7 linked regions of the Homo sapiens genome follow. The protein of the gene in region 1 purifies or fractionates together with the protein of each later gene. This does not show direct contact. Each region holds a gene or a part of one and is shown in the gene's direction. Other genes may lie near its edges.

Evidence for each region.
Region 2: the proteins of PCSK9 (region 1) and DNAJA3 purify together in Homo sapiens (affinity purification with mass spectrometry, with the first as the bait; one study listed by BioGRID). This does not show direct contact.
Region 3: the proteins of PCSK9 (region 1) and MMP2 fractionate together in Homo sapiens (co-fractionation; one study listed by IntAct). This does not show direct contact.
Region 4: the proteins of PCSK9 (region 1) and UGGT1 purify together in Homo sapiens (affinity purification with western blotting; one study listed by BioGRID). This does not show direct contact.
Region 5: the proteins of PCSK9 (region 1) and DNAJA1 purify together in Homo sapiens (affinity purification with western blotting; one study listed by BioGRID). This does not show direct contact.
Region 6: the proteins of PCSK9 (region 1) and SLC25A12 purify together in Homo sapiens (affinity purification with mass spectrometry, with the first as the bait; one study listed by BioGRID). This does not show direct contact.
Region 7: the proteins of PCSK9 (region 1) and DNAJC10 purify together in Homo sapiens (affinity purification with mass spectrometry, with the first as the bait; one study listed by BioGRID). This does not show direct contact.

What each region holds. Positions count from the first base shown.
Region 1 is NC_000001.11:55,038,067-55,042,347, forward strand, and holds the start of PCSK9 (proprotein convertase subtilisin/kexin type 9 isoform 1 preproprotein), read left to right. Parts: upstream 1-1,481; 5' UTR 1,482-1,771; coding exon 1,772-1,978; exon of another isoform or gene 1,979-2,337; intron 2,338-3,900; coding exon of another isoform or gene 3,901-4,023; intron 4,024-4,281.
Region 2 is NC_000016.10:4,439,368-4,442,867, forward strand, and holds part of DNAJA3 (dnaJ homolog subfamily A member 3, mitochondrial), read left to right. Parts: intron 1-2,007; coding exon 2,008-2,208; intron 2,209-2,900; coding exon 2,901-3,053; intron 3,054-3,500. UniProt on the Homo sapiens protein: Modulates apoptotic signal transduction or effector structures within the mitochondrial matrix. Affect cytochrome C release from the mitochondria and caspase 3 activation, but not caspase 8 activation.
Region 3 is NC_000016.10:55,482,198-55,485,697, forward strand, and holds part of MMP2 (72 kDa type IV collagenase isoform 1 preproprotein), read left to right. Parts: intron 1-711; coding exon 712-938; intron 939-1,818; coding exon 1,819-1,967; intron 1,968-3,101; coding exon 3,102-3,230; intron 3,231-3,406; coding exon 3,407-3,500.
Region 4 is NC_000002.12:128,181,700-128,185,199, forward strand, and holds part of UGGT1 (UDP-glucose:glycoprotein glucosyltransferase 1 precursor), read left to right. Parts: intron 1-430; coding exon 431-591; intron 592-1,975; coding exon 1,976-2,090; intron 2,091-3,500. UniProt on the Homo sapiens protein: Recognizes glycoproteins with minor folding defects. Reglucosylates single N-glycans near the misfolded part of the protein, thus providing quality control for protein folding in the endoplasmic reticulum.
Region 5 is NC_000009.12:33,031,773-33,035,272, forward strand, and holds part of DNAJA1 (dnaJ homolog subfamily A member 1), read left to right. Parts: intron 1-2,443; coding exon 2,444-2,558; intron 2,559-3,500.
Region 6 is NC_000002.12:171,782,905-171,786,244, reverse strand, and holds the end of SLC25A12 (electrogenic aspartate/glutamate antiporter SLC25A12, mitochondrial), read left to right. Parts: intron 1-769; coding exon 770-971; 3' UTR 972-2,840; downstream 2,841-3,340. UniProt on the Homo sapiens protein: Mitochondrial electrogenic aspartate/glutamate antiporter that favors efflux of aspartate and entry of glutamate and proton within the mitochondria as part of the malate-aspartate shuttle.
Region 7 is NC_000002.12:182,726,257-182,729,756, forward strand, and holds part of DNAJC10 (dnaJ homolog subfamily C member 10 isoform 1 precursor), read left to right. Parts: intron 1-2,319; coding exon 2,320-2,402; intron 2,403-2,606; coding exon 2,607-2,738; intron 2,739-3,500. UniProt on the Homo sapiens protein: Endoplasmic reticulum disulfide reductase involved both in the correct folding of proteins and degradation of misfolded proteins.

The sequences.
Region 1 (4,281 bases):
ATGAAAGCCCTGCCAAGTGGCAGGAGGCCCAGCTGGGGCTGCCCCTCATAAGAGTGCAGTGGAGGATATGGGATGAGAAGTGACTGCCCCTCTGGTTCCATCTGTCGCAGAGCCCAGGGTGCTTCCTTCCTCCCCCACCTCCCTCAGAACACACCCACTGCATGCTGGACAGCAGCCCCCTTCCTGGGCCTGGGGACATCCATGTCCCTCTGTGCACAGGCTTCATCATTCTCTGGGTGCACGGTAACGACCCCGGTAGGTGAGAGGCCAAGGTCCCAAAGGGGAGCAGCAGGGAAAGTTAGCTCCCATCTATTCTTGCTCCAGGGGAGGCCTTTGATGAGGAAGCTGCCAAAAGCACATTGCAAATACAATTCCAATTACAGGCAACAGGAAGGAGAACCACCTCTGCCACCTCTGTCAGCAAACCATGAGCTCCTACTCTGTGCTGCGATGGCGGGCTCGATGGGGATAACTCTGACCTTACCTCATGGAGTCACTGTCAACCCACTGGTTGCACTGTCTTTGTGCACTGGCTCTCTGGAGTGAGGTCTTTGCAAACAAAGTGGAAAGAGCATCAACTTTGGACTCCAGCACCTAGATTCAGAGCAGGCCATTTCACTCGGAATCTGCTGTGCATCTGCAAGGGAGGATCATAAATTCGCCTTTGTTTCTTCCCAGTATCGACAGCCCTTCCAGAAAGAGCAAGCCTCATGTCATGCCACATGTACAATCTGAGGCCAGGAGCTCTCTTTCCCCTTTTCATCCTCCTGCCTGGTACACAATAGGTGTTTACTGGATGCTTGTCCAGTTGATTTCTTGAACATGGTGTGTAAAAGGAATCTTTGCAAATTGAATCTTCTGGAAAGCTGAGCTTGTGCCTACCATAGAATTCTGAATGTACCTATATGACGTCTTTGCAAACTTAAAACCTGAATCTTTGTAGTATAAATCCCTTGAAATGCATGTAGGCTGGACATCAAAAGCAAGCAATCTCTTCAAGGAGCAGCTAGTTGGTAAGGTCAGTGTGCAGGGTGCATAAAGGGCAGAGGCCGGAGGGGGTCCAGGCTAAGTTTAGAAGGCTGCCAGGTTAAGGCCAGTGGAAAGAATTCGGTGGGCAGCGAGGAGTCCACAGTAGGATTGATTCAGAAGTCTCACTGGTCAGCAGGAGACAAGGTGGACCCAGGAAACACTGAAAAGGTGGGCCCGGCAGAACTTGGAGTCTGGCATCCCACGCAGGGTGAGAGGCGGGAGAGGAGGAGCCCCTAGGGCGCCGGCCTGCCTTCCAGCCCAGTTAGGATTTGGGAGTTTTTTCTTCCCTCTGCGCGTAATCTGACGCTGTTTGGGGAGGGCGAGGCCGAAACCTGATCCTCCAGTCCGGGGGTTCCGTTAATGTTTAATCAGATAGGATCGTCCGATGGGGCTCTGGTGGCGTGATCTGCGCGCCCCAGGCGTCAAGCACCCACACCCTAGAAGGTTTCCGCAGCGACGTCGAGGCGCTCATGGTTGCAGGCGGGCGCCGCCGTTCAGTTCAGGGTCTGAGCCTGGAGGAGTGAGCCAGGCAGTGAGACTGGCTCGGGCGGGCCGGGACGCGTCGTTGCAGCAGCGGCTCCCAGCTCCCAGCCAGGATTCCGCGCGCCCCTTCACGCGCCCTGCTCCTGAACTTCAGCTCCTGCACAGTCCTCCCCACCGCAAGGCTCAAGGCGCCGCCGGCGTGGACCGCGCACGGCCTCTAGGTCTCCTCGCCAGGACAGCAACCTCTCCCCTGGCCCTCATGGGCACCGTCAGCTCCAGGCGGTCCTGGTGGCCGCTGCCACTGCTGCTGCTGCTGCTGCTGCTCCTGGGTCCCGCGGGCGCCCGTGCGCAGGAGGACGAGGACGGCGACTACGAGGAGCTGGTGCTAGCCTTGCGTTCCGAGGAGGACGGCCTGGCCGAAGCACCCGAGCACGGAACCACAGCCACCTTCCACCGCTGCGCCAAGGTGCGGGTGTAGGGATGGGAGGCCGGGGCGAACCCGCAGCCGGGACGGTGCGGTGCTGTTTCCTCTCGGGCCTCAGTTTCCCCCCATGTAAGAGAGGAAGTGGAGTGCAGGTCGCCGAGGGCTCTTCGCTTGGCACGATCTTGGGGACTGCAGGCAAGGCGGCGGGGGAGGACGGGTAGTGGGGAGCACGGTGGAGAGCGGGGACGGCCGGCTCTTTGGGGACTTGCTGGGGCGTGCGGCTGCGCTATTCAGTGGGAAGGTTCGCGGGGTTGGGAGACCCGGAGGCCGAGGAAGGGCGAGCAGAGCACTGCCAGGATATCCTGCCCAGATTTCCCAGTTTCTGCCTCGCCGCGGCACAGGTGGGTGAAGGAGTGAATGCCTGGAACGTACTGGGAACTGCACCAGGCACAGAGAAAGCGGGCTTGCCATTATAGTGGGTTCCGATTTGGTTTGGAAAACATGGGCAGCGGAGGGTGGAGGGCCTGGAGAGAAGGCCCTACCCGAGACAGGGGCGGGGTGGGAAGGACGGCAGATGCTGGGAGCACGAGGCAATTTCTTTATGACACAGAACTCATGCTCTAGTATTCCATCTGTTTCAGCCGAAGAAAAGAACCAGCTGAAGGGGCAGGGGAGAAGGGGCGGAGGTATTCTCGAGGCCCATTGGCGTCCTTTAGGACTCAGGCAGGGAAGGGCCCTTGGTGCTCTGGAGCCGGAGGTGGTGCGCCTGGTACTGGGACCCCGGAGCTGAGCCCGGCGCCTCAGCCCACCTGGCTGTCTGCCGACCGTGTGCGGGGCGAGTTTGCTCAACAACTCTGCCAGCTTCTGGCCCTCAGGCTGTGGGAAGCTTCTTCCCGGGGCGAGACCACTAGCTTTTTCTAAGTATTACCAGCCCAGGACTTGGCTGAGGTTCTGTGTCCCCCAGCTTGGAGTCAGATGTGGGGTTGAATCTTGGCTTCCTCTCACTAGCTGTGGTGCTTGACAAGTCACTTATCCTTGAGCCTCCATTGCCTAATCTTTAAAAGGGAGGTGACAATCGTCCCTACGGCTCAGTGGCAGCAGATGGGGAGATGAAGGGAAAGTTCTGTTGACCATGAGTGAACTTACAATGCAAGCCCCGGGGGGATCACTTGCAGTTTTGTCCCTGTCTGCAGTGTGACCTGTTGGTGACATTGTCTTTGCTCCAAACCACAGCTCCTGGGGCAGAGGGGAAAATTCTGCCACTCACAGCTGCCTGCCCACGCTTCTGTCTGAGTGTGCTGGGTGGCAGGATGGCAAGTCCTTACTCAGCTCAGTATAGCCCTCTTCCTTGTTCCCTGAGCCTTTGACTTTCTCGAGGGATGTTGTGGGGTTGTGGCCAGGATAAGAAAGGGCATTTCAAGTTACCACTGCTCCAAAACAACTGTTCTGGAAATAGTGAGTACCCCATCCTGAGAGGTGAGTAAGCAGAGGCTGTATGACCACCTGAACCAAGCCCTTGAGGATGTTTCTTCTCTGGTGGAAGTTTGGAACAGGAGCCTCCTCAAGTTCATTTATTCATTCATTCAATGGTTATTTTGTGGGAATCGAATTTAGAATGAAAATATTTTTTGGCAAGCAGAAAATAATTTTTAGACCAATCCTTTTCTTTTAGTCATGAGAAACTGAGGCCCAGAGAGAGGAGGTCACCCCAGGTGCATTAGAACTGGGTTTCCAGAACTGACACTCCACTGCACAGAGTACTCTCCCAATTCATTCAATTTTTATTTAGCGGAAGGCATTTTCAGATGGGTCTTTGAAGCATTAGTAGGAGTTCAGCGATGATGGTGTCATGAGAATTTTATTCTAGGATTAGGAGGTACCATGAACAAAGATACAGAGCTGGGAAAACCAGAGGTGGAAGATAAGGAGCACATGTCCACAGTTCTTTTTCTTTTTTTTTTGAGATGGAGTTTCGCTCTTGTTGCCCAGGCTGGAGTGCAATGGTGCAGTCTCAGCTCACTGCAACATCTGTCTCCCGGGTTCAAGTGGTTCTCCTGCCTCAGCCTCCCAAGAAGCTGGGATTACAGGTACCTGCCACCACGCCCGGCTAATTTTTGTATTTTTAGTAGAGAAGGGGTTTCACCACGTTGGCCAGGCTAGTCGCAAACTCCTGACCTCCTCAGTGGATCCGAGGAGGTGATCCTCCCGCCTCAGCCTCCCAAAGTGCTCGAATTACAGGTGTGAGCCACCACGCCTGGCCTCCACAGTTCTTTATCCACCGTCTGAAATGTAAAATGTTACGAAAACCAAAAGTTTTTTTTGTGATTTATTTGATGGTAGCACCT
Region 2 (3,500 bases), on another chromosome or scaffold:
AAAAGAGTTGAGGTCTCACTCTGTTACCTAGGCTGGAGTGTAGTGGCGAGATCACAGCTCACTGCAGTCTCAAACTCTTGGGCTCAAGCAGTTTTCCTGCCTCAACCTCAACTTCCTGAGTAGCTGGGACTACAGGTTCCCCACTGCACCCAGAAGATTCAATTTTTAATGGGGCGGGGGGGTGTTATTCTTGTGAATGTGTTTTTCCACATGGTTAGTTGATCTGATGTTTCTGCCAGGGGCATGAGTTTTGGAGAGTCCTAATCCACCGTGTTGCTGACTTCTGTCTTCAAGGGGGATGTTATTAAACGGACCGAGCCTCAGAACCTAAGAGCAGCAATTCCTTGGGAAGGGCTGGAACCAGGAGATAAAACCCACCAGGAAGTCATGAACTCCCACCTGACTCCTCCTCTGCCAGCCTTCCTCCTTTGCATCTTAACTGGGTGCCCTAAAAGTTACCCTAGGCACCAAGCTGTCCTCCACCTGCTTTCTTAGTCCCCCTCCATTCTAGGTGGAAGTGTCTTTTCCTTTGGAGGAAGCGTACTCTTTTCTGTTTGGCCTTAAGGATAGTGCCTATTTTTTTGAGATAGTGTCTCACTTTGTTGCCCAGGCTGGAGTGCAATGGTGCAATCACGGTTCACTGCAGCCTCAACCTCAACCTCCGTGCTCAAGCAATCCTCCCACCTCAGCCTCCCAAGTAGCTGGAACTATAGGCGTGCACCACCATTCTTGGTTAATTTTTTTGTATTTTTCTTGTGATGGGGTTTCACCATGTTGCCCAGGCTGGTCTTGAACTCATGAACTCAAGCAGTCCACCTGCCTTGGCCTCCCAAAGTCCTGGGATTACAGGTGTGAGCCACCATACTCAGCCTAGGGCAGTGTCTTTTTAATTAAAGAAAAAAAAAGTAAGACAAACACATAAAAAAAAGATACAAAGTGAGGGCCAGGCACGGTGGCTCACGCTTGTAATCCCAGCACTTTGGGAGGCTGAGGCAGACGGATCACGAGGTCAAGAGATCGAGACCATCCTGGCAAACGTGGTGAAACCCTGTCTCTACTAAAAATACAAAAAAATTAGCTGGGCGTGGTGGTGCATGTCTTTAGTCCCAACTACTCGGGAGGCTGAGGCAGGAGAATCACTTGAACCCGAGAGGCAGAGGTTGCAGTGAGCCGAGATCGCGCCACTGCACTCCAGCCTGGCGACAGAGCAAGACTCCCGTCTCAAAAAAAAAAAAAAAGATACAAAGTGAATACTACATTTTTCCTTGTCCCTCCCTAATCCCCCTTTTTGAGGTAGTTAGTCCTTATTAACAGTTTTGTGGGCCAGGCCCAGTGGCTCATGCCTGTAATCCCAGTATTTTGGGAGGTCGAAGTGGGAGGATCGCTTGAGGCCAGGAGTTTGAAAGCAGCCTGGGCAACATAGCAAGACCCTGTCTCTACAAAAACTTAAAACAATTTGCCAGGACTGGTGGTGTGCACCTGTAGACCCAGCTACTGTGGAGGCTGAGGCAGGAGGATTGCTTCAACCTGGGAGGTTGAGGCTGCAGTGAGCTAGGATTGCACCACTGCTATTGTCGTTGCTGTTACTTCTGTTACTCCGGTTGTTCTGGCTTGCAGAAAACCTTTCGATGAAGGTAAGGGTAGGAAGCATAAATTCTCTACGAGGTAATGTCCCCTGAGGAGAGAGGTGAAGTGTGAATCTGTGAAGAATCCAGGGTGCCTGTGAGGTCAAGCGAGGATCAACACAAACATTTTCCCAGCATGCGCGACGGCGGGAGAGTTCGTGAGACTTTTGGAAGCACTTCACGCCCTACACTTAGCATTCAGTTTGGTCATCTCATCCCTCTTCTAGGTGCTAGTCACAGGCCCACCCCAACCTCATAGGATGTGTTTGCACACAGGGCCACTTAATAAATGTTATGGCTGCCTTATTTGCTGTGAACTCTTGTCTGTATTCCTGGGCCTTGGTAGACCTGGGATGCCCAGTGGCTCTGCCTTTCACTGTAGGTTTTGAGTGATGAGGTGAAGAGGAAGCAGTACGATGCCTACGGCTCTGCAGGCTTCGATCCTGGGGCCAGCGGCTCCCAGCATAGCTACTGGAAGGGAGGCCCCACTGTGGACCCCGAGGAGCTGTTCAGGAAGATCTTTGGCGAGTTCTCATCCTCTTCATTTGGAGATTTCCAGACCGTGTTTGATCAGCCTCAGGAAGTAAGTTCCTCACTTGGAAGAATTATTCAAATTTTAGACTAAGTATGGGTCAAACAAATTTTTTTATCAGTTTCTGTTTCTCAGAAAGGCAAGGCAGCTTAAATGGAGTGATCTGGAGGCAGCCATTTTAGTAGAAAATAATTTCAGTATTTGAAAAATCGCATAGGTAGTAATGAGTATGTCCATTCTGATGGTATTCTTAACAGTTGCATAATGAGGTAGCACCTAAGGCTTTCAGAGCCCATGAGGGTGTGAGTGTTGTCTCTCATCTGCTACAGTATTCCAGGAGAGTTCTGTCCGGTGGGAAGGCACTGCTGATCCTCTCTCATTTATGTCCTTATAAGACACTGTCAGAGTGGAAGAGAGAGGGGATATATTTATGATCTAAATTATGATTGTGGATCATTCAGGCTGTTTTTAAGTGCCATGTACGAGTATTTATCTGTGAACATTTTCAGTCTGTTGAAAGTACGTTTTCATTTAAGTCATACATTATCTCTTAAAAATCCCAAAGAGTAGGGCAGAATTCGTTCAGTGAGTCCTACCTATGCTTACTTGGCAGAGTGCAAGTAAGTACAGTGGTGAAAGAGTGACTGAAAATGTGGGCCAGTACCCTCCTTTCCCTTTAGAGCCGAGCGTCAGTTTTGGTCGTTGCAAACAAAAGTTGACAGGCTGTCCCTTGGTTTCTTTAGTACTTCATGGAGTTGACATTCAATCAAGCTGCAAAGGGGGTCAACAAGGAGTTCACCGTGAACATCATGGACACGTGTGAGCGCTGCAACGGCAAGGGGAACGAGCCCGGCACCAAGGTGCAGCATTGCCACTACTGTGGCGGCTCCGGCATGGTAAGGCTCTGCCCGAGACTCCACCTCCCACGGCTTGCACCACTGACTGAGAAGAGCTGGTTGTGGCACTGCTCCCAGAGAACGTATGCTGGGAATTGGGGGAGTTGGTGAACTCAGCCTGGCTGTCTTTCCCCCGTGACCCTGAGGAGACGAGCCTGTGCTCCTCTTTCCCTGATACCACAGGCTCAGCAACCAGAGCACAGCAGCTCCGGGGGCGGGGCGGGGGATTGCATCCAGTTGTCACTTTCTTCTTTATTTTTCTAACAATTGCTTTGGTAATTCAAGGGGAAATAATCTTTTTTAAATGTACTGTTCAGCTCCCAGGAGTCTTCAGGTACTTCTGTAGACAGGCGGTATCATATTTTTCAGTGTCGTGTGGTCAAGTTGATGATCTGGAGTGCAGAAGTTTGTGTGTTCTAGAAAATCAGATGAACAGATTGAGGCCCT
Region 3 (3,500 bases), on another chromosome or scaffold:
GCTCCCTGAACCTCTGCAGGGACCTGCTCAGTTTGGGCCTCAGTTTGGGCAGGGCCAGTTGTATGACTCATGAAGGACAGGACTACTTTCTTTTTGCAAATGGCTGATTCAGGATTTAAACCCAGGTCTGTCTACTGCCAGAGCCCATGCACATAGTCCTTGAATCTCTTTAGAAGAAAACAGGAGGAAAAAAGTCCCCAAGTCACCAGCCGCAAGGTAGATAAATGAGTTGATAGAGGTAAAGGAAGGATGCTGGAGTATAATGATTCCATATCACAGCCTCTGGAGCCAGATTGCTTTGTCCCAAATCCAGATCTACCATTTGTGAACTGTGTGATCGTAAGCAAGTTTCTTAACCTCTCTGTGCTTCAGTTTCCTCCTCTGTATAATAGGGTTAGTATATCTACATTACAGAGTTTTGAGCATTAAATGAGTTAACATATTCTGACTTTAGTGCCTGGACATATAGTCAGCACCCAGCACCAACAAGTGGTAGCCATGCTCTCTATAGCTGTATGTCCTGTCGCTCAACTAATGGGTGACCGTGCTGGTTTGGGAACCCAGTACTCCACCCAGTGCTCTGGGACCCCTGGCTTATTTCCTGTCTGGACTATGGCACTGGGTTGGGGGGCTGATTGCTACAGCCTGCTTTGGTCAGTACTGTGCCATCCTAATGTGGCTAATTGCCTTGGGGGTGTGCATTTCTTTCAGCAATACCTGAACACCTTCTATGGCTGCCCCAAGGAGAGCTGCAACCTGTTTGTGCTGAAGGACACACTAAAGAAGATGCAGAAGTTCTTTGGACTGCCCCAGACAGGTGATCTTGACCAGAATACCATCGAGACCATGCGGAAGCCACGCTGCGGCAACCCAGATGTGGCCAACTACAACTTCTTCCCTCGCAAGCCCAAGTGGGACAAGAACCAGATCACATACAGGTGCCGGGGCAGGGCTTGGGGAGGCAGGGCCATGGGGCTGAGGGACACGAGTCTCCTTGACCCATGCATTCTCTCCACTCAGGGGATCCATGAGGTGTCTTTTGTGAAGGCTTGACATCTTAGGGAGTTTCAATACACAGTTCTTAGAAAATGAAGTCAGACAGACTTGAGTTTCATACTTGCTGGCCATGAGACATTGGGTTACTTTTCAGTGCTGTGAATGTTGGCTTTCCAATCTACAAAATGGGGCTTAAAAAATGCCCTTATATGGTATGTTGGGGAACTAAGCTAGGCTGAACTAATACAAACGGCTTCTATGATTTTTGACACAGAGCAAGAGTGTAGTAATGCTAGTCATTGTTATTGTTTTTAGATGAGGTCATTGGGATGGGCAGAAGGAACGTGATGATTGGTAGCTAATTGGGTTTAGCAGCCCAATTGGGTTATAACTGGTTGCTAATTGGGCCAAGAGCTGTGCTCTGTATGGGTGGTGCTGGGTTCCAATGGTGGGATCTTTGCCCTGTGCCCCATAATGCACTACTTATGGCCCTCCCCCACCAGCCAGAAGTGACAGATGGAACTCCTGAGCTGGGGCCTAAAAATGTTGGCTGGCCTGGGACTCCCTGGGTCTTCAAGGCATTCTGGGAGGGTTGTCCTTGGCAGTGAGCCCTGCCCAGCCTACACACACATACACGCAGGCACATGCTCACATATACATACACATACCTGTGCACCCTTCCCGTGCTTGTGCATATACTTGTATGTTCACATACACACACACACTCAAACTTTTTCATACATCTGTGCACACACACATACTTGCATATACATACACTTATGCACATGCATACACACTCACATGCAGTTCTACCACCTCCAGGATCATTGGCTACACACCTGATCTGGACCCAGAGACAGTGGATGATGCCTTTGCTCGTGCCTTCCAAGTCTGGAGCGATGTGACCCCACTGCGGTTTTCTCGAATCCATGATGGAGAGGCAGACATCATGATCAACTTTGGCCGCTGGGGTAGGCAGAAGATGGGGCAGAAGAGGGGCCAGCAGGGATCAGTGTTGAGACGAGGGGGTGAGATGGACATTAGAGGGGCGTGGGGATCCTAAGGGCGGCTTAGATAGGACAGTAGATGGTGTGGGCCCTGGGGGTGGTTTAGATGGGGGCAGCACAACACGGAGTGGACACTGGAGAGCCACGTTGACATGGGGGCAGATGGTGTGTTGTGGTATAACCTGGAGGCCGTCTAAACCCGAAGCAAGTGGTCTACTGTGCTGTCCAATATGGCAGCCATTAGGCAGAATATACATGGCTGTTTAAATTTAAATTAGTTAAAAATTTTAAATTAGTTTCCTGGTCACACTGGGCACATTTTAAGTGCTCAAAAGACACAGGAGGCTAGTGACTATTGATTTTGGACAGCACAGACAAAGAATATTCCTCTTAATCACAGAAAGCTCTGTTGGATGATGCTGGTAGACACTGAGGAACTGTAGATATATGAGAGTGGTTTGGAAACAGTGGAGCAGTGTAGACACTAGAGGAAGGGTCGTAGAACCTGGGGCCAGGTGGCCATGTGAGTTTATGGTGTGAACACTGCCAGTAGCACAGACATAAAGGTATGTGGTATAGACACTGAGTGGTAAGTGATGAAGGTAAAGAGCAGGGGAAACAATGTAGACAAGTGGGTGGGTGGTACAGGCCTTGGTGACAAGGTGGGCATGAGGATTCATGTTGCAGATATTGGTGATAGTGTGACATGAAGGCAGGATTGTGGTTAAGAGGGCAGTATTGACAGGATGGAGGATGGCATAGACACTGGGGATGATGAAGATGGGGTGAGGACACTAGTGTGGTAATGTGGGTATGTGGTACATATAGTGTCATGGTGGTAGAGTAGACAATGGAGGTAGAGGGTATGGATACTGGGAGTCATGTAAACCTGGGAGAGCAGTGTAGACCATAGGATGGTAACAACCAGGTCAGCAGATCTCTACTGAGCTCCTGTTGACAGTCCTGGATAACCCCACTGGGACAAGGGAAGGGGACAGATGCTGGGTGGGCTGACAGGCTCCACATGTAGATGGGGTGTGGAGGGGTTTCAGGGTCTAGGTGGCACAGCTAGACGCTAAGACCCAGTGTGTGTTTCAGAGCATGGCGATGGATACCCCTTTGACGGTAAGGACGGACTCCTGGCTCATGCCTTCGCCCCAGGCACTGGTGTTGGGGGAGACTCCCATTTTGATGACGATGAGCTATGGACCTTGGGAGAAGGCCAAGGTGAGAAAGGGGCCCTCTGCATGCCCCAGACCTTCTCTCCTGTCCTCTCTCCACTCCATTTGCTTGGACCAGAGAGGTGGGAGGGGAGGAAAGTCACACATCTGGGTGAGTCAGAATCTTGGTCTCCAAAGAAGGCCTGGAGAAGTCCAACCTCCCCCTTCCATGTCACTCTTTAGTGGTCCGTGTGAAGTATGGGAACGCCGATGGGGAGTACTGCAAGTTCCCCTTCTTGTTCAATGGCAAGGAGTACAACAGCTGCACTGATACCGG
Region 4 (3,500 bases), on another chromosome or scaffold:
AAGTGTGCCTTCCTGATTGTAACATAGCCACATTTAATCCTTGTTGAGTACTTACGATGGGCAAGGCATTATTCTACATCTGTCCATCCATATGTTAACTTACATAATCCTCCCAGCAACCCTGTGAGATAGGTACTGTCATTATCATTATCTCCATTTTACAGATGAAGAAACTGAGGCACAGAAAGGCTAAGCAGTTGAAATTTGTTTTATTCCTACTCCCACACACCTTGCTAAGAAGTGTCTTACATGTTAGTGAGTCAACCAGGTAATAAGTGGAGCAATCAAAGTGCATCTGCCCCTAGTGCCTGTGCCACTAACCACGGAGCAGCCTTCCATGCTGCCTTAAGCGAGCCACTCTGTATCTGAAGGAAACCGCATTAGAGCTGTCTGCATGGTTGCTTAACAAATGACTTTTTATATTCTCCAGATTGTACGAACAGATCTGAAAGAGTTAAGAGATTTCAATTTGGATGGTGCTCCTTATGGTTACACTCCTTTCTGTGACAGCCGAAGAGAAATGGACGGCTACAGGTTCTGGAAGTCAGGGTACTGGGCCAGTCATTTAGCCGGGCGAAAGTATCATATCAGGTACTGAAAAGAAGCACTCCTAACACTGTTACGGGGTTTTCCTTAAAATTGATTTTGTGTGGTTAAAATTGTGAATAGGTAATACATTGGTATGGTTGAAAAATAAAAATGATAAAAAATACACAGTGGCTGGGTGCAGTGGCTCATGCCTTAATCCCAGCACTTTGGGATGCCAAGGCAGGTGGATCACCTGAGGTCAGGATTTCAAGACCAGCCTGGCCAACATGGCGAAACCCCGTCTCTACTAAAAATACAAAAATTAGCTGGGCATGGTGGTGGGCGCCTGTAATCCCAGCTACTCGGGAGGCTAAGGCAGGAGAATTGCTTGAACCCAGGAGGCGGAGGTTGCAGTGAGCTGAGATCACGCCGCTGCACTCCAGCCTGGATGACAGAGTGAGATTCCATCTCAAAAAAAAAAAAAAATACAGTGTAAAAAAAACTTCCTAATCCTGTCTCTCTCTTTCCTACTCAGTTCCTGTTCTCACAGCAGATAACCTCCCAACTTATTGACTGTCTATCCTTCCAGATTTTCTTAATTCTTACAGAAACAGCTGTGAATGTGTATTCTTTTTTTTTTTACACAAAATATGCTACCTATTTATACATTTTGTAACTTGGCTTTTTTTTTTTTTTTTTTACTTAATGTCATATACATCTTCTCAGTGAATAGAGAGAGACCTGATTCCTTTTCATAGCTGCATATTATTCCAGTGTGTGAGTGTTATTTATAGTTTTCCCTGTGACCTACAATGTTGCAATGAATAATCTACTAAATAATTTTTCATATCTCATATATTTGTGAGATAAATTCCTAGACGTAGACCTTTTAGGTCGAACAGTGTGTGTGTTGTTACATTTCTAATGAGCACCCCATTCTCTTCTCTGCGAGAAGTGTGATTTGAAGATGTGCAGGGAAGAGGAACGTGTAGGAAGCGGCACATGCAGAGATCACTGCTGGGGTTTAGTGATGGTGGCTTCATTCTTTACATTCCTGGTCCAAAAGAACTGTAAGGACTGTAACACTCTGGGGTTTTCCCCCCCCTGTAACATTGAAGACATCATCAGGATATCATTGAATAATGGTTGTTTATCAGTTACTATGGCTTTTGTTACTGCCGCATATGCTAGAAATCTTTGGTCTGAGATTATTTCTTTCGGATGGCAAATACAGAACAGTAACAAAAGCATAGCACAGTATAGATTTTGCAGTGACTTTCTTAGAGATCTTTAAAGTAGCACACTTTAACTCCACTGTAGGGCTGTAGCATACCTTTTCAAAGAAAAGCCAGAATATTTGGCTAGTGGCCTGTTCCATTATTCATTGGGTTTAGTTTTCCTGTCGTAATCCATGGTTGGTTGTAACAAGCGGGTCTTCTTTATTCAGTGCACTATATGTTGTGGATCTGAAGAAGTTTAGGAAAATAGCTGCTGGTGACAGACTCAGGGGACAGTACCAAGGTCTGAGTCAGGACCCTAACAGCCTTTCAAATCTTGATCAAGTAAGTGTCCATTTTTTATGGTTAACTGTGAGTGACGGGTATACAGTGTTGCATCAGAAAATGAAGTATTACTTGTGTCTTCAGTCCTCTCCTCACAGGATGGCGTCTTGTTTTTTCATGGTGTGTGTGTGTGTGTGTGTGTGTGTGTGAGAGAGAGAGAGAGAGAGAGAGATTTTTATCTGCCCTCAAGACATATCAGCGTGAAAAATGTCATAGATTTGATGCTGGCTGGGGAGAGAGATGGAAGGAGAATGCTGCCTCTCTGAACCATTAGCATATCTTTGTATTTTGTACTCAAACTAATCTCATAGGTTTGTTTCTCTACCTACTAGGGTCAGTTTGTTTTTCTGCTGTAGGAACTAAATAGCTCAGGATTCGTAGTATAGAATCACAGTATAGTATCACAGCTTCCCCTTTTTCTATGTCAGAAACCATGATGTGTTTCAAGGCTAGCTAAATTACTGTTTGTTAATGTTAAGCATTTTTCAGAGGTGAGATTGTAGTTTAAGGGTTTTGGATACATATTTCACATATTTTAAGCATTTTATTTTGCTTAAGTCTACTTAAATGTTTTTAAACCTTTATTGTGATATGTAGCATCCATAAAGAAAAGTATACAAAAAACATACATACATATTCACATACATCCAGGAATTATTATGAAGCAAATACCCAGATACCACAACCTAGTTCAAGAACTAGAACATTATCAGCATCCCAGAAGCCATCCTTCCTCCCTAACAAAAGTGTCTAGCATCACGACTTTTATGGTAATCATTTTTGTTTCTTTATAGATTTACTGTTTAAGCATGTATCCATAAACACTAGTTTAATTTGCTCATTTTCTTCTCCTCTATCTCAATGGAATAATAAAAGGTAAACTTTTTTGTTTGTTTGTTTGTTTTGAGACAGAATCTCACTCTGTTTCCCAGGCTGGAGTGCAGTGGCATGCTCTGGGTTGCACTCACTGCAACCTCCACCTCCCGGGTTCAAGTGATCCTCCTGCCTCAGCCTCCTGAGTAACTAGGATTACAGGCACGCACCACCACTCCTGGCTAATTTTTGTATTTTCAGTAGAGACAGGGTTTCACCATGTTGGCCAGGCTGGTCTCAAACTCCTGACCTCAAGTGATCCACCCGCTTTGGCCTCCCAAAGTGCCGGGATTACAATCACGAGCCACAGTGCCCGGCTCTACTTACTTTAAAATTTGTGTGATACCTGGTATCTTCTAATTTATGGAGCTACTATGGATCTGATTCTGTTGTATTATTTCTGTTATTCTTTTGTTCATACTGTCTATCACATATTTGTTTATCTTCTGTAGTGTGTCAGGCGTTGTTTTTGCAGAATTATTTTGGGGAATAATTTGAGTTCAAAAATGGTATCACCCAACAGTATTTGTTTCTCTC
Region 5 (3,500 bases), on another chromosome or scaffold:
ACTTGCCCATCTATTATATTTAAATGCTCCGTTAATTGATTTGATAGACTACCTTTCATTTTTTTAGACTTGACACTTCCCTAACCCATTGGGCTCCAGATTTAGAAATAACTATATAACCTTTTTTTTGTATTCTCGGGATTTGATTGATTTGTCAATTTTTAAATTTTACTCTTGTCAACTTGCAAAAACATTTTAAAATGTATTACAGCAATACACTGCAGAAATTTTAAGAAATGTATATAACCCCAGAAGGAAACTTAAGTCAACATTATGGTAATCTCTTTTCAGATTTTGCTGTTTATAAATGGGTCTACTATTATACTGTACTGTGGTATGATACCAATCTGGAACTGTTAATATTTGAACATATTTCCATATTAATATACAAATCTACATTAACATAAGTGGCTGCAATAGGATTCTATCATGTGACTCATGATACTGGCCTCTCTGACCCCCAGGGTTCCACCCAAGAATGTAGTACATTGAAAGGTAAAAATAAGTTTCCTTGGCCAGTTGTTGAACTTAATAAATCTGTGTTTACCCCTTAGTGGGCCCATGCCTAAGGTTTATACTTTGAGGTGTTCTTGATACCAATAGCATACAGAGTAAGTCTTAACGTTGTTGATAGGTTCTTGGAAACTGGGACTTCTAGCAGAATGACCTCAAATAATGTCATGCAGGTCCTCAAATAATGTCATGTCACTGTAACACAGCTGAGGGGAAAAAAATTGGTCTTGTTATGTGTCATTTCATTTAAAGCAATTTCCAAGAACCTATCAACAATGGACTGTAAGTGAGAACTTGAAATTAATGCCCTAACTATATAGCAAGTGAAGGCATTTGTGCTGTGCCTACTCTTACTCTGTATTCAGGAAAACCTAGCTGAGTTTAATTGCTTCCCTAGCATAACAAGTTATTTTGCCTCAATACACGATTAAAGACAGATTGTTTAATTTTGTCAGTGTATGATACTGATAGCGCTTTAAGTCCTTATTTAAGAGGTACGTACTGAAGTATTTGTGGGTTAATGGATATAGTTGGAGTTTGCTTGAAAGTATATGTGGGGGGCATGCGTAGGGGTGTAATACATGAAATATTAGTCATGAGTTAGTAACTGCTGAAGCCAAATTGGATGGATATGTAGGAATTCATTGTACTGTTGGCTCTGTTTATACAGGATTAATATTTTCCATACGTAAAGGTGAAACATGATTGCTCTGTTAGGTAACCAGAGTGATCTTGGGAAATAATCAGGAGATAACTGCTTTGGTGTAATACTCTACAAACACAGGTTTTCTTACATGAGTTATGTTCTAAGAGACGTTGCCCAAACCCTTACTGAACTAAAATATGTGGGTCAGAGGTGAGGGGCACGAAGTCTCAGTTTAAAAAAAAAAAAAAAGGCGTGTTTTTTTGCCCTGTTAGAAAATACTCCTCCCCTTGTATTTTACGGACCACATGGGCTAAGGGAGTGTCTAGCACTGATTGTTTTGTTTGCTTGTTTAATTTAAATGAGACAAGGTCTGGAACTCCTGTGCTCCAGGGTGCTATCCTCAGGGTATCCTCCTGACTCGGCCTCTCAAAGTATAATTACCCTTTTTTTAAGGGGACTATACTGAATAGTTCTTTAAAATACGGATTTTCAGGCACAGGGGCTCAGGTCTGTAATCCGAACACTATAGGATGCCGAGGCAGGATCCCTTGAGCCCAGTAGTTCAAGACCAGCCTGAGCGACATGAGAACCCCCATCTCTATTAAAAAAAAAAAAATTCAAAAATTAGCTGGTCTGTGGTCCTGGCTACTCGGGAGGCTGAGGTGGGAGGATCACTTGAGCCCAGGAGATGGAGGCTGCAGTGAGCCATGTTTGTGCCACTGCACTCCAGCCTAGGCAACAGAGCAAGATCCTATCTCAAGAGAAGATTATAGATTTAAAATTTTTTTAGTTTTATATATAAATACTACAATAGAAGGGTCTTGATTTACATTGCTGTTAGACTTTTAATAGAAGTAATTTGATGTGTTATAAGTAATGAAACTGAAATACTTAATTAACATTTTTTGGTTATAACCAGTGTTAGCCAGTCATGGTTTAGTACCAGCATATACCTGTTGAGTTAATACTCTAAATATTGCTAATGAGGTGTAGGTGTCTGTGGGAAAGTTGAAACTTGGAAAGGATATGCAGCTTACTTCCCCAGGGTAATCCAGCCAGTGAATAGCAGCTCTGAGATTTGAAGGCTAGTCTCTTTGCCTCTGGAGTTTGTGTTCTCCACTATGATACCTTTCTTCAGGAGCAAATTGGACTGAACTACTTAAGTGGGCTTTCTTAGTCATTTCTGTGATTTTTATGCATAAACAAACATCTATGTATAGATTTTATGATTCTGACCTTAGTTGGATATTTAATAAAAGTACAAAATTAATGTTTTGTTTTTAGGCATGAAAGATGGCCAGAAGATAACATTCCATGGTGAAGGAGACCAAGAACCAGGACTGGAGCCAGGCGATATTATCATTGTGTTAGATCAGAAGGACCATGCTGTTTTTACTCGGTAAAGACTTTTATCAACCACTCAAATTGATATCACATATTTGGGTTGTTGGTTTTGTTTTTTGTTTTTTTGTTTTTTTTAAAGTGTTTTCCATTACTCTTAGAACCTATTTCTCAGGAAGATTGTTAACCATTGTTCAGATCATAAGAGGTTGAATACATAGGATCAGATTTTTAGCTTTTTGTCTCTAAGTATGGAACGTTGAAAATGTGTTTCAATTAGATGTTTTGTGTGAACCTAAGCAGCAGATGGGTGGGGAAAACATCCCTGGACAAAAATTTGCCCTCAATCTTTGTAAAGCAATTTAAGTGCCTTAAAGCTCTCACCAGTTTTCAATCTCATTTATGATAAATTGAATTGCTTTTAATTATAAATATCCAAAAGCATCTCTGTAGGAAACTTAAATTGTAACTCAATACTAAGTATAAATTCAGGTCTACCATTTTGAGCTAAATAATGAGTATGATGAACACTGAAGCACAAGAAAGATGGATGATTAACAGCAAATGTTTGTGATCCATGGCTAACATAACACCCTCTGTGCATGCTATATTCCCAGCAACTTGGGAGGCTGAGGTGGGAGGATCACTTGAGGCCAGGAGTCCTAGCTACTGGGGAGGCTGAGGCAGAAGAGTGGCTTGAACTCAGGAGTTCAAGGTTATGATCATGCCACTGCATTCTAGCCTGGGTGACAGTAAGAACCCACCTTTTTTTTTTTTTTTTTTTAATGGAGTGGAGGTGAAATTGGGAACATCTTAAACTAGTTTAGGATTAATTAATATTTCAGCTTGGTTTGGTGGCTTACGCCTGTAATCCCAACACTTTAGGAGGCCGAGGTGGATGGTCAGGAGTTCAAGACCAGCCTAGCCAACATGGTGAAATGCCATCTCTGTTAAAAATTAAAAAATTAGCCAGGCATGGTGGCAGGCCCTGAGGCAGGAG
Region 6 (3,340 bases), on another chromosome or scaffold:
GCCTGGCTAATTTTTTTTTTTTTTAATATTTTTAGTAGAGACGGGGTCTCACCGTGTTAGCCAGGATAGCCTTGATCTCCTGACCTCATGATCCGCCTGCCTCGGCCTCCCAAAGTTCTGGGATTACAGGCGTGAGCCACCATGCCCGGCCTATCTCTCTTTAAATAATTTAATTGATAATCTTTATGAGTCTACTACATAAAAAGTTAACTTCTAAAGTTATGTCAAAAGAAAAATATATACTTTAAAAATTACTTTCATATGTGCTAAGTGCAGAAAATTTGGAAAACCATAAAGCATAAAAGAAAAAAACCAGCCTGGGTGTGGTGGCTCACACCTCCCAGTGCTCTGGGAGGCCAAGGCAGAAGGATTCCTTAGACCAGAAGTTCGAAACCAGCTTTGGCAACATAGCAAGACCCCATCTTTACAAGAAGAAAAAAGAAAAAAATCATCCATAATCTTACTACCCAGAGAGTCTTCATATTTGAGTGTCTTTTCTTCTGACTTTTTTCCTATGGATTTGTTTATATATGTATGCAAGCATTGGAAATAAGGCCATTTCTCTTGTAAATCAAATATGTAGATAAGTTGCTGTCAAAGCAGCTATAAATCATGACTGTGGTTTCTAGTCATGCAGCACAGATGCCATGGAAATGGTTGAGAGAAACATTCTTCTTTGTGGCACATGGGTCAGACCGAAAATGTCCAGCTGTAAGCTGCGCTCATCCACCTTGAGCATGCTAACCATTGGCTTTTTTTCTGTCAACAGCAAACCCGCTGGTTCAGAACCAACACCTAAGTCACGCATTGCAGACCTTCCTCCTGCCAACCCTGATCACATCGGTGGATACAGACTCGCCACAGCCACGTTTGCAGGCATCGAAAACAAATTTGGCCTTTATCTCCCGAAATTTAAGTCTCCTAGTGTTGCTGTGGTTCAGCCAAAGGCAGCAGTGGCAGCCACTCAGTGATGAGACAACTGTTGAGTGTGGCAAAATGGCGCCTTGAAGAAAGAGGCCTAGGAGAGCAGCCCTGTAATGTATCCAGTCAGCTGCATGGTACTGACTGAGCTGAGGAGTCAAACTCTTCTTTCTGTATGACATATACATATACTTGTTTATAAAATAATCATTTGCCCAGGGAAAAAACCACAACGCTGTTTCAAGCTTTAGTCTTATGTGTTGAAATGTTTTTGTAAGCCTTGGCATGAATTAGTGTTCTAGACTCTGCTTTGCACAGCTTGCACTTACAGTGATTGTACATATTGTACATCTTTGTACAGAGACATCTTGGCACCTCATCCCAACAAATCACATTTGTAGAAATGTAATGCGGTTCTGAGTGGCTTGAAATGTACAGAATGTTTTGAAAGTGTTTTATTAAGAATCACACAAAAATAAATGTATTAAAATTAAATTCATTCTCTTATTGGTGACTTATGGAAATAAAGCATCAATATTGGATGTATTTAATTCCTAGTTTGTTTTCCATTCTGGAATAAAAAGGTATTTGCTGATAAAAGGCATAACGAGACATAGTGCTGCTACCACTGAATAAGTGATACTTTGGAAAGATGCATGCCAGTGGATGCCAGAGGACCAGGCTAATGACTTGTGTGTGCTGATGTGTTTCCATTTGTATTTAATGTGTGTAGACCCTCCTCTGTTCATCAATCAAAAAGCATTTCCTAGGCAGCTCCTCGCCTGTCAGTGTGCATATGGAAACAGGGACATCTCCATCATTACTGGCTTAGTTTTGCTTTCCTTTGACACAGTAAGGCAAAGGCCAAGCTTTCAAAAGAGTAAAGGATACTTTCACAATTTCCCTTCATATGGATATGATTCCAGTCAAAAATAAAATGCACACCAAAATGTATACATGTAGTTGGATTTTTCTTTGTAAATATACTGATAATACTTTTTGTTCTGATTGACTACTGATTGCAAATAACTCATGATCGGGTTCGCCCTTTCTTCCACCTTTATAGAAAACAGAAAAATTAGTTTTAGAAAGGGCTAGCGCAGAGTGAAGGGAGGGAAGAAGAAAGAGAAGAAAAGCTCTATATGGTGATTTAGTGGGGTCTAGGTTCTTACTTTGGAATCCAAATGCAAACTGTTCTAAAAGTCACTCATCAAGGGCGTGATTACTAATTTGGATCTAAACATAGATCTTGACAGCCACATCTACACTTTGATATGGATGTGATTTGATGTGCAGTATCAGAATTTATTTACCTTACCAAAGTGCTCTGGGAAGACATTATTGCTACTGCCAGTAAGCTGGGATATGAGAATGTATGCAAATATTTTCAAGAGGCGAGCCTGGAGACAGACCAAGTTACTTAGTATCCTGCACAGTGCTCCTCGATTGATGGCTGACAGCCCTGTGACTGCAACTGTAGGCTCCCTGGAGGCCCTCCAGGAACAAAAGAATTAGCTTTGAAAGCAAGTTATTTTCAAATGTATTAGATTGGTCTCATGGGAGTGGAACAAATAATAATACAGTTGTTTTGCTACTACCACTTGTTAGAAATATATAAGTAGTCCATGGATATGTGATTACAAAAGAATCCTATGTATGTATCTAGAGTGAGATGGGAAAGTGTCCCGCTTACCCTCCTTCTACCTCCACCACTTCCTGGCCCAGAGGTAATCACTGCTAACAGGTTACAGCATGAATATGTAGTCTGTTTTTCATAACTCTATAGAAATATATGTACATATTTATATTTTAGAAACAGGATTATGTTATGTGTGTGTTATTCTGTGTCTTGCTTTTGTTCACTTAATGTGTTTTGGATATCTTTCCATGTCAGTTTATAAAGTTTTATTTTTAATGGCTGCATAGTATTTCATTGTATGGGTTATAATACTTTTCATAAATCTTCCCTTATTGATATTTATTCATTTTTTTCACTACTGCAAACAATGCTGTAGTGAATGGCAGACATCTTTGTACACATATCTTTAGTGCATGTGAATTTCATTAGGATAGATATTTGGAATTGCAATTGAAAACTTTTAAGACAAGCTTTATGTTTTTATACATATTGCCACATTGTTCTTCAAAAAGAGTTATTAATTTACTTTCCTTTGACAGCATATGAGAATGCCTATTTCTTTGCAACCTCAGCAAAGAGGGATATTATCAGTCTTTTACATTTTCAGCAAATCATGATAGCTGATCATGGTTATTTTATTTTTCTAATTACTAGTGAGATTGAATGTCTTTTCATATTTACTGGTCATTTGTATATTTTCTTATTGTGGAATATGGACAAAGTACATGAAACATATGTATGCATGTCCACAACAGATATGTACACACATACATATATATT
Region 7 (3,500 bases), on another chromosome or scaffold:
GCTGCAATCTCATTATAATGATCTCATTATAATATAATTATCTCATTATAATAATCTCACCATGGGGCGGTGAGGAGTTGTTCCTTATGGATGAGCAGAGAAAGTGATTTCCTGAGATGGAACCTACTCCTGGTGAAGATCCTGTAAACAATGTTGATATGACAACAAAGGATTTAGAATATTACATAAACTTGGTTGATAAAACAGCAGCAGGGTTTGAGGCCAGTTTTGACTCCAATTTTGAAAGAAGTTCTACTGTGGGTCAGATGCCATCAAACAGCATTTCACGCTTCAGAGAAAATCTTTCAGGAAAGGAGACATCAATCAGTGTGGCAAACTTCATTGTCATCTCATTTTAAGAAATTGCCACAGCCACCCCAACCTTACACAACCACCACCCTGATCAGTCAGCACCCATCAACATCACGACATGCATGACTTGCTGAAAGGCTGAAATGACTGTTAGCATTTTTTACCAATAAAGTTATTTTTTGTTCCTTGGTTGGTTTGTCACCCCACCTGGAGAGTGCAGCAGCAGGATCATAGCTCATCACAGCCTTGAACTCCTGGGCTCAAGCAATCCTGCTGCCTCAGTCTCCCGACTAGCTGAGACTGCGGGCATGTGCCACCATGTCCAGCTATTTTTATAGAGACAGGGTCTTGCTGTGTTTCCCAGGCTGGTCTCAAACTCCTGGGCTCAAGTGATCCTCCTGTCTCAGCCTCCCAAAAGGCTAGATGACAAGCATGAGCCACTGCGCCCAGCCTATTTTCTAATTAAGGTATGTACATTGTTTTGTTTGTTTTTTTTTTTTAGACATAATGCTATTACATAATACACTGTATATAGTGTAAATATAACTTTTATATGCACTGGAAAACCAGAAAATTTGTGTGACTCCTTTATAGTGATACTTGCTATGTTGTGATTTGGAAACAAACCCACAATATCTGAGGTATGCCTGTTACCAGGGTAGGAGACATTTTTACTACAAGAAAGGTTTTGTGTCAAATACCATTCAAATTTGTTTTACAGCATATTTTTATTTAAGACTTATGAACAGTAATACCTTGTGTAATTATTGCTTTCTATTTTTATATAAAAATAACTACCTCATTACTTGTTTATAGCTGATAAGATAATCCCTTCTTTCATTAAAGTTTGCATTAATTCTGTTAATATTTTTACCTAAATTTGTACTGGTTTGTGGTCTAAACCAATATGGCAATTTTTTCGACCACCTCTATAGAATGGTCATTTGCCAGACTTTGAAAACATTGCCAAAGAACAGCCCATAGTCCTGAATTACACACTTTGCCTGTAATGTGTAGATTAACTGTTTTCCCACAGGTCTGTCTTATACTTGAAATGTAGGTGAACACTGAGTCCTGCACCTGTTTCTAATTAGCCTGAATTAGTTGCACGTATTTAGAATACCATGTGTGATTTAATGTCTTACTGTAATTTCTGAAATTTTTATTTTAAAATAATAAATTTTAACATGGAATTATATGGAAATCCTTTAACCAAAAGCAGATTAACCTCGCCTTTTTATCTTGAATGTGAAAGCACATTTTTACAATGTTAAATTTTTTAAGTGAGTAAAATTTGTAATTTGCATCAGGTCATTTTACAGATAAAATATAAAATGTACTATTGGCTAGATATTATATGTTGTTCAAATCTGTAATTTTAGCAAATATGTATTAATGTTTTGAATTGTTAAAAACCTCAACCTTTTCAAACAAAATGATTTTCCAAGGTAATGTCTTGTTTAGGGCTTAGATTAAATTTAATCCCCGCAATCCTTACTGTATTATGTAGGTCTCTTATTTTATTCTTTCAGAGTTTACAGTAGCTGTCAGAATTGACTAAACCTACTTAACCTGTGCTGCATGTAATAGAAGAGCTTAAATCTCAGTCACTCTTACTATTTGTCTTCTTTATTTCTCTCATGCACACAAACTCTTACGTGAGGTTTGGCTGCTATTTCTTGTGCCGTCACTTTTTACAACTTTATGGCCATATTTATCTTGCAGTTTGAGGCTGCTTCTTTTTCAAGTATGGGCGTAGGAGAGTTTTTTTAAAAAGCTATTGTTGGTTTGACATTTGAAATGTTTCTTGTGGAAAAAAAATTTTTAATTTTTTAAAAATGTCATTTATGTAGAAGATATAGAAAAACATCACACAGAAAATGAGAAAGACAATATGAAAATTGCATGACTTTTTAAAATTCTGATCTCCACAAAAAGTTTTTAACTAAAATATGCATGAACCTTTAATAAATAATTCTAAGTTGTTTGCATTTTATGTATTTTTAGATGCTGCTGTTAATTCTGGAGAACTGTGGTTTGTAAATTTTTACTCCCCAGGCTGTTCACACTGCCATGATTTAGCTCCCACAGTATGTATTTTTCACATCCTCATTACTAGTTTTATTTCTAATTGATCTGCAATTTATATGTTAGAATTTTTTTTTCTATGAATAGTAATCAAAAATAATTATCAAATACTTTAAATGTCTGGTTTAAAAATATATAGCTTGGAGTGTGTTCAAGGGAAGAAAAGTGGTCTTATCAGAGAAATATGTTTTCTTTTTCTGTCATAGTGGAGAGACTTTGCTAAAGAAGTGGATGGGTTACTTCGAATTGGAGCTGTTAACTGTGGTGATGATAGAATGCTTTGCCGAATGAAAGGAGTCAACAGCTATCCCAGCCTCTTCATTTTTCGGTCTGGAATGGTAAGGGATAAAGTTAGCATTTTTTAAATTTGTGAAACATTATGACAAGTTAAATAGTAGAGAAAATAACAGTATGTAGAATTTGCAGAACATTTTAAGTCTTGTTTTACAAGGTGCCATCTCACTAGTCTTCTGTAATAATAAACATTTTGGATTATGAATTTTTTTTTTTGAGATGGAGTCTCACTCTGTTGCCCAGGCTGGAGTGCAAGGGTGCAGTCTCGGCTCACTGCAACCTCTGCCTCCTGGGCTCAAGCAGTTCTCCTGCCTCAGCCTCCCGAGTAGCTGGGACTACAGGCACCCGCTCCCATGTCTGGCTAATTTTTGTATTTTTAGTAGAGACGGGGTTTCGCCATGTTGGCCAGGCTGGTCTTGAACTCCTGACCTTAGGTGATCTGCCCACCTCAGCCTCCCACAGTGCTGGGATTACAGGCGTGAGCCACAGTGCCTGGCAAAAAAAACACCATTGACTTTGCTATATTTTAAAATTAAATGTTTGCCAATTTCAGTTTCTGTCTTAAGGAACATAATTTATACAATATGTATATTGTATTTGGTAGTTTACAAAGTATTTTACAAGTGTTGTCTCATTGAATGTAAAGCTCTGATATCTTTTTTCTTAGTTTCCAGTGAGGAACCTGAACGATTATAAATGGTATTATTAAAATGTGTTCCATAGAATCTGTACTGTCAAGATTATCAGGATATCATTTGGAAATACATTCTGCTATTGAGAAATAGAGCTTTGCTGCATTATTCAAG